Regions from separate parts of the Homo sapiens genome. Here region 2 is linked to region 1. The links come from fine-mapping of genetic effects on gene expression. Tissue or cell type: prefrontal cortex. Region 1 holds a variant in brackets; the other region holds the start of a gene. All regions are shown on one strand. Distances are from middle to middle.

The links. PIP is the estimated chance that this variant, and not a neighbour inherited with it, causes the effect.
Region 2: it holds the start of FLG, and the variant in region 1 is the best candidate, but not a certain one, in a credible set for the expression of FLG in prefrontal cortex (GTEx, PIP 0.60).

Annotation. Positions count from the first base shown.
Region 1 is chr1:152,481,708-152,486,861 of GRCh38, forward strand. No RefSeq gene overlaps it. Among named protein-coding and RNA genes, the nearest start is that of LCE5A, 27 kb to the right of the region's middle. The variant G/A (reference allele first, on the strand shown) is at 2,989.
Region 2 is chr1:152,322,950-152,328,103 of GRCh38, forward strand. FLG (filaggrin) reads right to left here and starts at 2,290. Exons shown (of 3, transcript NM_002016.2): 1 at 2,240-2,290. The region is part of intron 3 of CCDST (cervical cancer associated DHX9 suppressive transcript); the gene reads left to right.

The sequences.
Region 1 (5,154 bases):
CCACGAGGTCCCTTCCTGAGATATTTACTCCTAATCCATACTTCCAAGGTTCCTGGTCTAGAGTAGCTGGGTTGTTTATTGTGATTAATATATGATTGGATTTTAAATTTTCACAGTTAGGTTGTGTGGGGCCCTTATATAAATGTATTTTACCCCTTAAGGCTTTGTTTTTGGAAGAATGACTTACTCAGCCTTGGTATTAACTGGTCTACCAGACTGATTTCAGCTAGTGTAGGGCTTTTCTGAGAGGGCCCAATAATGGTTTGTTTTAGGTCATAGATATTTGTTTGCCTGTGACAACTGTCTTTGGTGTCCTAAAGTCCTTCAAGGTAAAACTTGGCAGGCATTAAATTTTACAGCTTGCGGGGTGAAAGTCTGAGTTATGTTGACTATTAGTTTGATTGGATGTTCCCTACTTTCCACCCCTAGTACTGGGCTCCATTCAATACTCGGGTTTCCTTTTACCCTTTGTGTTAGGATTAATCCTAACCATAACCATCCCCAATGACAGGGCCCGCTTATAGCTCTCTTCTAGGTTTTCCTTAGAGTTAGCTTTAAGGGTTCCTTAGGCGATTTATACACTTCCCATTTGCCCTTTTCCCTTTTACCCTTCCTTACATTTTTTTTTTACTGGTCCCTTGACCCAAGTGTAATGAGTCCGCCCTCGTTCAGCTGTTTCCATGGCTTTTTCGGTGGTCAGGAGCACTTGACAGGGACCTTCCCAGCTTGGGTGGAGCTTGTCTTCCTTCCAAGTTTTAATCAGCACCAAGTAGCCAGGCTGGAAGTGGTGAACCGTGAACTCAGGGGTGGAGTTTGAGTCAGAAGTCCTTTTAACCTAAGAGATGACAGGGTAGAGGATATGGCCAGTATATGATTTTTTAAAAATTGGTCTTTGGTTTCCATAGTAGGAAGCTTTGTAGCCTTGTTTAAATATGAGAGTCCATACAATAACTCAGAGGGGGACAATCCTAAGTCTTTTCTTGGGGTTGTCCTAATCCCAAGGAGTATCATTGGGAGACATTTGGTCCAAAGCATTTTAGTTTTTAAGATTAGTTTGGTAACGTGCTTTTTGAGAGTTTGATTTATTTTCTCTACCTTTCCAGAGGAGGGGGGATGCCAAGGGGTGTGGTAATCCCATCTAATGTGCAAACCTTCCATAATTCTCCTTAGCACCCTTGAGTTAAAGTGGCTTCCATTATCAGAATTAATATTTTTTTTTACCAGGCCAAATCTGGGTATAATTTGTTTTAAGATTATTTTGACCACATTCCTGGCTGTGGCAGTTGGGAGGGGGAAGGCCTTCACCCAGCTGGAGAGGTGGTCTACTATTACCAGCAGATACTTTAGTCTCTCTATTTTGGGCATTTCTGTAAAATTTACTTGAGTGCTTTGAAATGGCCTTAACCTAGGAGGTCTTCTTCCAGTAGTCGTTTTTTTTTTTTTTTTTTTTTAACTACCTTTTTGTTTATTCTCTGGCAGGTCACACAACCCTCACACACTTGTTTAGCAAGTGTATAAATCTCTATACACCCATAATTCTTGTGTATTGCATTACACAAGACTTTCCCCAATGACTTCCCTTATGCAGTATGACATCGGTTCTCTAATTATGGATTTGCTTATTATTACTCTCCTGTCAGGGAGCACTCACCTTCCATCCCCAGTTTGAGTGGCCCCTATCTTACCCAGCTCTTTCTCCTCCTCTTTAGAAAACTGGGGTCTTAATACCACATTAGGGATATCTGGTATTAGGCTACACAGTCTAACTTCTTTCTTCAGGGAGGCTTGCTTAGCAGCTTTATCTGCAAGCCCATTCTTTATAGCTTCTATAGTGTTTCCTTTCTGATGGTCATTTACGTGAACTATGGCTACTGGAAGCAAGAGGCTTTTTAAAACTTGTTTGACCAGTTCCCCATGTACTAATTTTTTCCCAGCGCTATTTATTAGGCCCCACTTTGTCCAGATCTTTCCAAAGATGTGTACTACTCTATAGGCATATTTGGAATTAGTATATATAGTGCATTTTTGACCTTCTAGGAGGTTTAGGACCTGGTTAAGAGCATATAATTCACAGGTTTGGGTTGACCAGTTATTGGTTTACCTTTTTCACATAAGGATTGTTTGTTTCTATCAATGACAGCATAGCCATTATGTCTTTTGCTGTGTATTACTTGGGATGACCCATTCACAAACAGCCTTGTCCCATCATGTACTGGAGTTTCTCTAAGGTCTGGTTTAACTTTAGTTTGATAGTCTATGATATTTAAACAGTTACGGTTTGATGCCTCCTCATTCTCGTCTCCTTTCTATAAGAAACTGGCTGGATTCAAGCAAGTATCTATTGTTAAATCTATTGGATTTATCTATTGTTAAGACCAAATTATTATTATTATTATTATTAGTAGTAGTAGTAATATGAATTTATATTTTAAAATCTGGGAATTAGTTAACCATCTTCCAGCTTTTTGGTTTAATACATTCCAGACCTGATGTGGGGTGCTTACTACCAGGGCCCCGCTGAAGGTCAACTTTTGAATTTCCTCTACCAGCAGAGCTGTGGCCGCTACTGCTTACTTGCACTTTTGTCTCTGTCTCCTGTCCTTTATGGCCTCTCTCTCTTTCTCTTTCTTTCTTTTATACTTGTTCTTCCTTTTACATTATCTTTCTCCCCAGTCTCACCATCTGTGTCTTTGATCTGTCTTTTCCTGTCTCTCTCTCACTTATTTCCTTTTTCTATTGCTTTCTCTGTCATCCCCTGTTTCCTTTCTCCCTTACACTCAGTTTCTTCCTCTTTCTGTCTCTCTCTGGTCCTCTACCTTTGCTGTTTCCTCCCCTTTCTCTTTCCAATTTACCTTCTTATTTTTTCTCTTCCTCCCTTTCCCAGCAAACAGAATATTTACAATTGACATCATTTCAGCCCAAGTATAAAAATTGGTCCTAAAAATTGAACTACCTGCTCTGCTAAATCTAGGGGATTTTTTTATGGTG[G/A]CCTTATTTCCTTTTTAAAATTCCTAACCTCAGTACTTGTTAGAGGCACACCCACAAATCCAACTTCTTCCTGTCCCATAGGGAAGTCTCTAAGAGGGTACATGTTAGACACCTGCTGTTTAGAAGGAATAGGTAAATTCTCAAATTTTTTAAAACATTGTTCTAATTTTTTTCCTTAAATTTGGATAAGGATTTAAGAGAGCATTGGGTTTAGCTCCTTTATGACCCCCAGATTCCTCTTCCTCTTGCCTTCCTGTTGCCTCCTGATCTCCCTGTCCTCTACTTTGTGAGATGTATGGGGCAGGGGGAAAGCATGTTAGGGGATGCCAGGGATTTCACTGGGCAAAGGCCCTTTATTATGCTCTTTTTTTTTCTTTAAGGGGGATCATGGGGGTTAATTCACTAATCCAACAAAAAGCATAACCCACCTCCTCTTGTGAGGTTGGAGTTTTGGTATTTACATAGAGAATTAAGTTTGGCACACCCAGTCCTCATCTGAGCCAAACTTAGGCCAAAAGACTGAGGCTGATTAACGGGCTCTTTGGGCCAGATAAAACAGCAATATTTATTATCTTTTGCTTTTCCTTGTCCCTGGTTCGAGGGTTATCCCTCCAAACCTGCAGCATTTTCCCCAATGGATTATCTGGGGGAATTTTAGAGGGGGGTCTCTTTAGTTTCCTTTTTCCTTTGTTTCCTAAGCCTAGAATTCTTATTTCCCGTTTTTGGTTAGTCTCTGTGTCTGAGCTTTTTCCTGTGTACTCAGCCCCCACACTGGAAGTTTCTTCGACACCTCAAGAATTGCTTCGTTTGTCTCCAGCTGTTTCCTCATGGGACAATTGGGACTCTGCACTCGCTTTGTATCTAAGGTACATCTTAGTCACACACACTCAACCTCTGAAAATGCCTAACCACCAAGGCAGTACTTATAGTCCAATTTTCCTACCTTGGCTCATGCACAAGTTTGCCTAGTTGCCATGGTGCCTGCTTTTCTCCCTGTGTCACTTCCACTGTCTCCTGAATAACAGTCTCAGGTTTGTCTTCTGCTTTTGTGGGGAGCCAGGACACCCAGACAGAGCAGGCCACCTAAATCAGGTGGGATGTATCTCCCCTCTCAGCTGGAGTCCCACTCCATGCAGGCACAGAGTTCCCCATACGGGTTACCAGGTTGTGAGAAAGAAACTCACCCATCCAATCCCAAAGAATGGACTCAGAGACCCAGAGAACAGCTAAAGTGAAACTTTTAATGATGGTCTTGCAAGACAGCTTGTCTGATGGGCAGGCACACCTAGCACAGTTACAACAAGCAATTTATCCCCTAGTGCACAGGTCCCTCTCCCGGACTCTTCATAGGCTAAGTACTATGGGGTCACAATCTTCCCAGACATCACCTATCACTTGTTGGGTTGGGGCTTTAGGTGTTGTCTTGCAGCATTTTGTTGCAGCCTACAATGCATTGCAATCCTAGTCAGCTCAGGGGCTCTTTAAGTATTTGACTTATGACCTAAGTAGTTGGGCAGGCTGATAAGAACAGACAAAGTGAGCTATTTTGCAGGCTAGTAAACTTTCATCTTAGACTAAACTTCTTTGGTTTGGGTGAGGGCAACTAAACAGGGGGCAGGGGCTACAAGCAGATGTTGGCTATCCAAGCAGGGGCCTAGTATATCCTGTGTTTTCTGTAGTTTGCTGACCTAAGACAATTTAAGGCACTTTATCTTGGAAATGGACCACTGTATACATTATTTCCTTCGTATCTCCAGCTCCAGTCAGAGCTAAAGTGAGCTTGGGTGAGCCAGGAGGATCAGTGGGCTGGCCCAGGCCATGGGAACAGAATACAAGTTAACTGGCCACAAATTTCATCAGTGGACCCTAGACCAAGAACTTGGTCAGTTCAGTCCCCCTTACAGTAGGGGGCAGCAAAAATCCAAAATCCAGCAGAGGAATCCCAGGCTTTCCTTTGCGTGTGACCCCTAGGGCCTGGGGTTCCTGTCCTGAACCCAGATGCCATCAGTACAGGACAAGGGGAAAGGGGATAAAAAATGCTAAGCAGGAGGTAAAAGTTATGTTGATTGAGTTATTTCCTAAAATGAGATTTTCTTAAACCAGAAGAGACAGAAATATAGACATCTAATCAGAAATTTTATCTCCACCTCAGGTGGGTCAGTTGCT
Region 2 (5,154 bases), 160 kb before region 1:
GAAGACATACCAGATAGCAAGGTGTGTTATAAAGGAAGAAAATATGGCATGATGCAAGGCTAAACAAATGGAATGATAAAAGATAATAGTATAAAGTCAGTCTTATATCACTCTGGACATTTGGTTAATGGCAAAGATGGTAGTGTAGGTCAGTAGAGAAAGAATAGTCTTGAATAAATGGTGCTGGGTTAATTGAATTTTCAAATGGAAAAAAAATAGTTTCCAGGTTGATTTTACATGTAAGAGATAAACGAAGATAACATTGGAGAATATCTTCAGGACCTCGGGGTGGGGAAATACTTAAATAAAATTCAAAAAGTACTAATTAATAAGAAAAAGACTGATAAATTGTACTGCATTAAAAGTAGGAATGTTTATTCTTTTAAAGATAGCATTAGAAGAGAGATGTACAAGCCACACAGTGGGAGGATATACAAAACACATTTAACCAATAAAGGAATCTGTCCTGAATATAAAAATAGCTTCTATAAATCAATAAAAAATACAGTTAACTCAATGGAAAAATGAATACCTTAGGAACGTTACAGAAAAGGATATCCAAATGGCCAATAAACATATCAAAACTTCTCAACCTTGTTATGCACTAGGGAAATGCAAATTGAAATAACGTGTGAGACCTCAATACACCCACCAAAGTGACTAAAAAGATAAGAAAGAAAAAAATCCTTGACAATACCAAATATTGGTGAGAATGTGGAGAATTGAGATTTTTTTTTTTTTTATGTACTGCTGGAGGCACATAAAGTGACAGAAGCACTTTGGAAAATTGTTTGACAGTATCTAAGTCCTAGCGATTTACTCTTAGGAATATTCCCAACTGAAATATGTACATATGTGTAACCAAAAGTAGTACACAAAAAAGTGCATAGCCCTATTATTTATAATACCCCCCAAAATGGAAGAGACCCAAGTATCTACCCATAGACAAATGGATGAATAAATTGTTATATTTTCAGATAACATAATAGTCAGTGTTGGGAGATGAAGGTAGACTGGACTAGGATGATAATGGCAGAGAGGGGGATAAATGGATAGATTTGGCAGGTTTGTAGGCAGAGTTGACTGGACGTGGTGATGAATCAGTGTGATGAGAAAACAGGAATCATGGATAACTTCTAGATTTTGGTATGAGCAAACAGTTATTTCTCGTTATTTCTATTATTTCCATCATCTTTCACATAAAAGAATGCAGTCTCTCCCTGCTCCTGCTCTTGCCTTCCTATATTCCTGTTTTCCACGTAGCAGCCCAGAGTGGTCTTTTAAAAACATAGATTATCTTACTCCTCCTGCTTAATACCCCTTTAAGTACATGCTAAAATCTAACATGTACTGTTTTAATTCTACTGTGCCCCTCTTTACATGAGCTACGCTGTCTAGCTCTCTGACATCACCATATACCACTGGTCCTCTTTTTAACTATGTATGCTCTAAGGCACACTAGCTTCTTTTTGCTCTTTGGGACAAGTTTACTCTTGCTTAGAATCTTGCCCTTTGCCTTGGCTAGTTTCTTTTGTGTTTAAGATCTCAACTCAAAGATAATTCCCTAGAGAGGTCTTCCCCTGGCCATCTAATTTAAAGCACTTTCCTCCTCCCTCCCATCACTTTACTACAAGCTTGTCCAATCTGTGGCCCAGGACAGCTTTGAATGTGGCCCAACACAAATTTGTAAACTTTCTTAAAACATTACGAGTTTTTTTTTAAGCTTATCAGCTATTATTAGTGTCAGTGTGTTTTATGTGTGGCCCAAGACAATTCTTTTTCCATTATGACCCAGGGAAGCCAAAAGACGGGACACCCCTGCTCTACTACATCACTCTTTTATTTTCTTCATTGTTCTTATCACTATTTAAAATTATCTTATTTGTTTATTGTTGTTTACTAAATGTTTCCCCCTATTAAAGGTAAGCTGCTAGGAGTTTATATAGTTCACTGCTGCATAGATAGAGCCAAGACCAAGTAGAAGGTAGTTAATACATATTTGTTAAGTAAATGAATAAATGGACAATCTAACAATACAGAGTATTGAGTAGCTCCATGGAAAGCAAATTTATGCCCTCATTTTCCTTCTATATAGAAATAAACCTTTTAGTGACAGTGCCACTAAAAAGAAAGAGAAAAACCCTAAACTTCCAGAACCTTTTGCCTTACAGTACACATACATTCAGATTTCCACCTTGGTTAATAGTAAGTAGACAAAATTAAATGTATTCCTTCTTACCTTGTTCACCAAAAGAGCAAATAGAATGTAGCCTGAAGGAGCCTGCTGGGTACTGAAGGCTGAGATAATGGCCCTTTTATAGCAGGCCCCATGCAGGGAGGAGCCACCCTCTGTGGGATGGTCTGATTCATTCCTAACCAAACCTAGATCCACCCATATCTCCACCTCTATTTCTCCAGCAACCTGTGTTTACTTCCCAGCTTCCTCACGTACTCATCTGTACTTGTTTCAGCAAGTTCCAAATTTGGGTTTACATATTGGAAATTTTATGGAAGGGTCCCTTTGGCTAATACAGGTTGTTTGTGTGCAGGGCCCATACCTACTTTTCTGTAACCCCACTTTGGCTTGACAGGTGCTTGGTAAATATCTATTGATAAATACACTTCCTGATCCTTGTCTCTAGAAGAGTAGGACATATTAATACGTTTATAAGAACTTGAAATTCAATTTATGATAGGAAAACATCACAAGCATCTACATATATGTTCTTTTTTAATCTATGTATTCCATCTTTGGGTACTGAAGAACTTGCCATGAGATGAATGCCGTCTTCTAGAAATTATGGTCAGTAGAGGATAGGCAAATTTAATTTTAATTTTTCAAAGCAGAGCAAGAATGTGAACAATTGAACTAGAAGTGGTGATCACTAGGAGCATGAGTTTAATTAGGCAAGACTCATTAGTGTAATTTTACTTTGTTTTCAAGGTTATTACATCGTGGCATCAGAGACATGTTCCACATACTCTTCCTTCTTAAACCATGAATTTTCTTTTATTGCCATAAATATACAGGGGACTCCTATCCCTGGTCTGTCTTATGATATACACACTGTTATGTTGAGCAGATTGCATCTCCATATGGATGTCCCATGGTTATCTCAATCCATAGTGTTGAAAACTGAACTTACATTGTGCCTCCTACCAAAATGTACTATCCTCCAGAAGCCCATATATTGGTAATGATGCCCCCACACACTGGGTGTCTCAAGCTAGACAAAGTCATTTTCATTTCTCCTTTTCCTTAACCCCTCATGCTCATGTCACATCGTATCAATTATACTCAGGCTTAGATTTTGTTATGTAGGCCTATTCTCTACCTCCAGTGCTATAATTTTAGTTCTGGACCTGACCATCTTTCAATTGGGTATTGGTAAAGAAAAAAAAGTGTCGTAACTAGCCTCTCTCTCTACTATTAAGCTGGCTTACCATCTTATGTCATTCGCTGTGCTGGTTTCTTCTTGCCTGCAGAATTTCAGACTTTTTTACCTGACGTACAAGCCCCTTTACAATAGGCATGAATCTGTATCTTTTCAATTGTCCCTCTTATTACCTGTATCTCATGGAAAAGTCACTCTAGAATGAGCAATATTTCTTGGACGAGCCCATATTGGTCCACTACTGTTCAAAATCTTTGCGTGCTATCCTCCACTACCTTGACTTGAGAGACCCTCATCCTTAACTTCTCTTTATCTTTTAAGATTCTTCAAAATTACCACCTCCTGCATAAAGCCTTACCTGACATCTCCAGATTTATCAGTGTTCCCTCACATACTCTGTATTTACCTCTCAATAGCACTGGTGATATTTTATATTAATTACTTATTTATATGTGTGCCCCCTGCCCCCTGGTGCCTTGAATCCTGTGTTTCTTCTCACCCTAGCATTGACTGGGTCTGAGTCATCCTTTGTGTCCTTGGGCCCTACAGCAATGCCTGGGACATGATCAAATAAGGGATGCAAGGGTGTGCCAATCTTGTTCAGAGTCAAAGAGATAAAAATATGCCCGAGTTTTTAAAACTGTGTTTAATGTCCTCGTTCTTAACCTTATTAGACCATTGATTCTTTCTTTTGTGGAGTATTGGTTAACATCTGTAGAACACAGATATTCATTTTCTCCTTTTTTCTTCTTGGGTCTAATTTTTTTATGCCAGTAGTTATTGCATTTTTGTCTCTACCATGATGTAATAATGATAGTAATCTATATTGTATACCCATTATGTGCTAGGAATGTGCTAAGATTTTGCGTGTATTAATTTTAATCATCAGGACAACCCTTTGAGGTCATTATTATTCCTCTATTTTAGAGATGAGGGAACTGATACTGATAAGGCACCCAAGGTCACCAAGCAAGTAAGTTACAGAACTAGGATTTAATCTGAGGTTATTCAGACTCCAACTCCCACATTATTTCCACCATGGCATATTGTTCTGGGTGTGAACTTTTATCCTTTTTTTGTTAACCTTATTTATATTTTTAATGTTTTAAACAGTGATTTCTCTCAAAGTACCTATGTCTGGGTGAACTTAACTGTGGAAATCATTGCAGGATCAGCAGAAAGACTAGACCATGGACTATGAGTGAGTGAAGAAGGTAGCATTGAGAGAGTGTCAAGAATGAGGCAATCTTGGATATGACCTTCTTTGGGGCCAAAAGACCCCAAATCTTGCAGAATTATGTCAATATGGAGGGTATTGTTTAGTGGTCTGCTCTAGGACTTTTTTCCTGACCATGTTGTGCTCATTGTATTTTATCAATAACTTAGGTGAAAATTTGGATAGATGGCAAATATTTTTAGGATAGACTGAGGATTCAAGAAGATTTTATCATGTTGCACCAATGGCTCAAATCTGATAAATGAATATTATTGAAAAAGTAAAATTCTGACTCCAGTTCCAAATTACACTTTACAAGGATAGGGTAGAAGACATGAGTAAAAAAAGCAATATTGTGGCAGTGGCAGAGTGATGCCATAGCCAAAAAGATAATGTGATATTAGGCTGCATTAAAATAAACACATTAGCTGGAACAAAATAGGTGGTGAGGTACTTGGCTCAGCATTTATCAAACTATTTCTGTAGCTCTTTGTTCAGTTCTGATGACCATTTTTCAGTAAGGATATGGACAAATTGGTATGT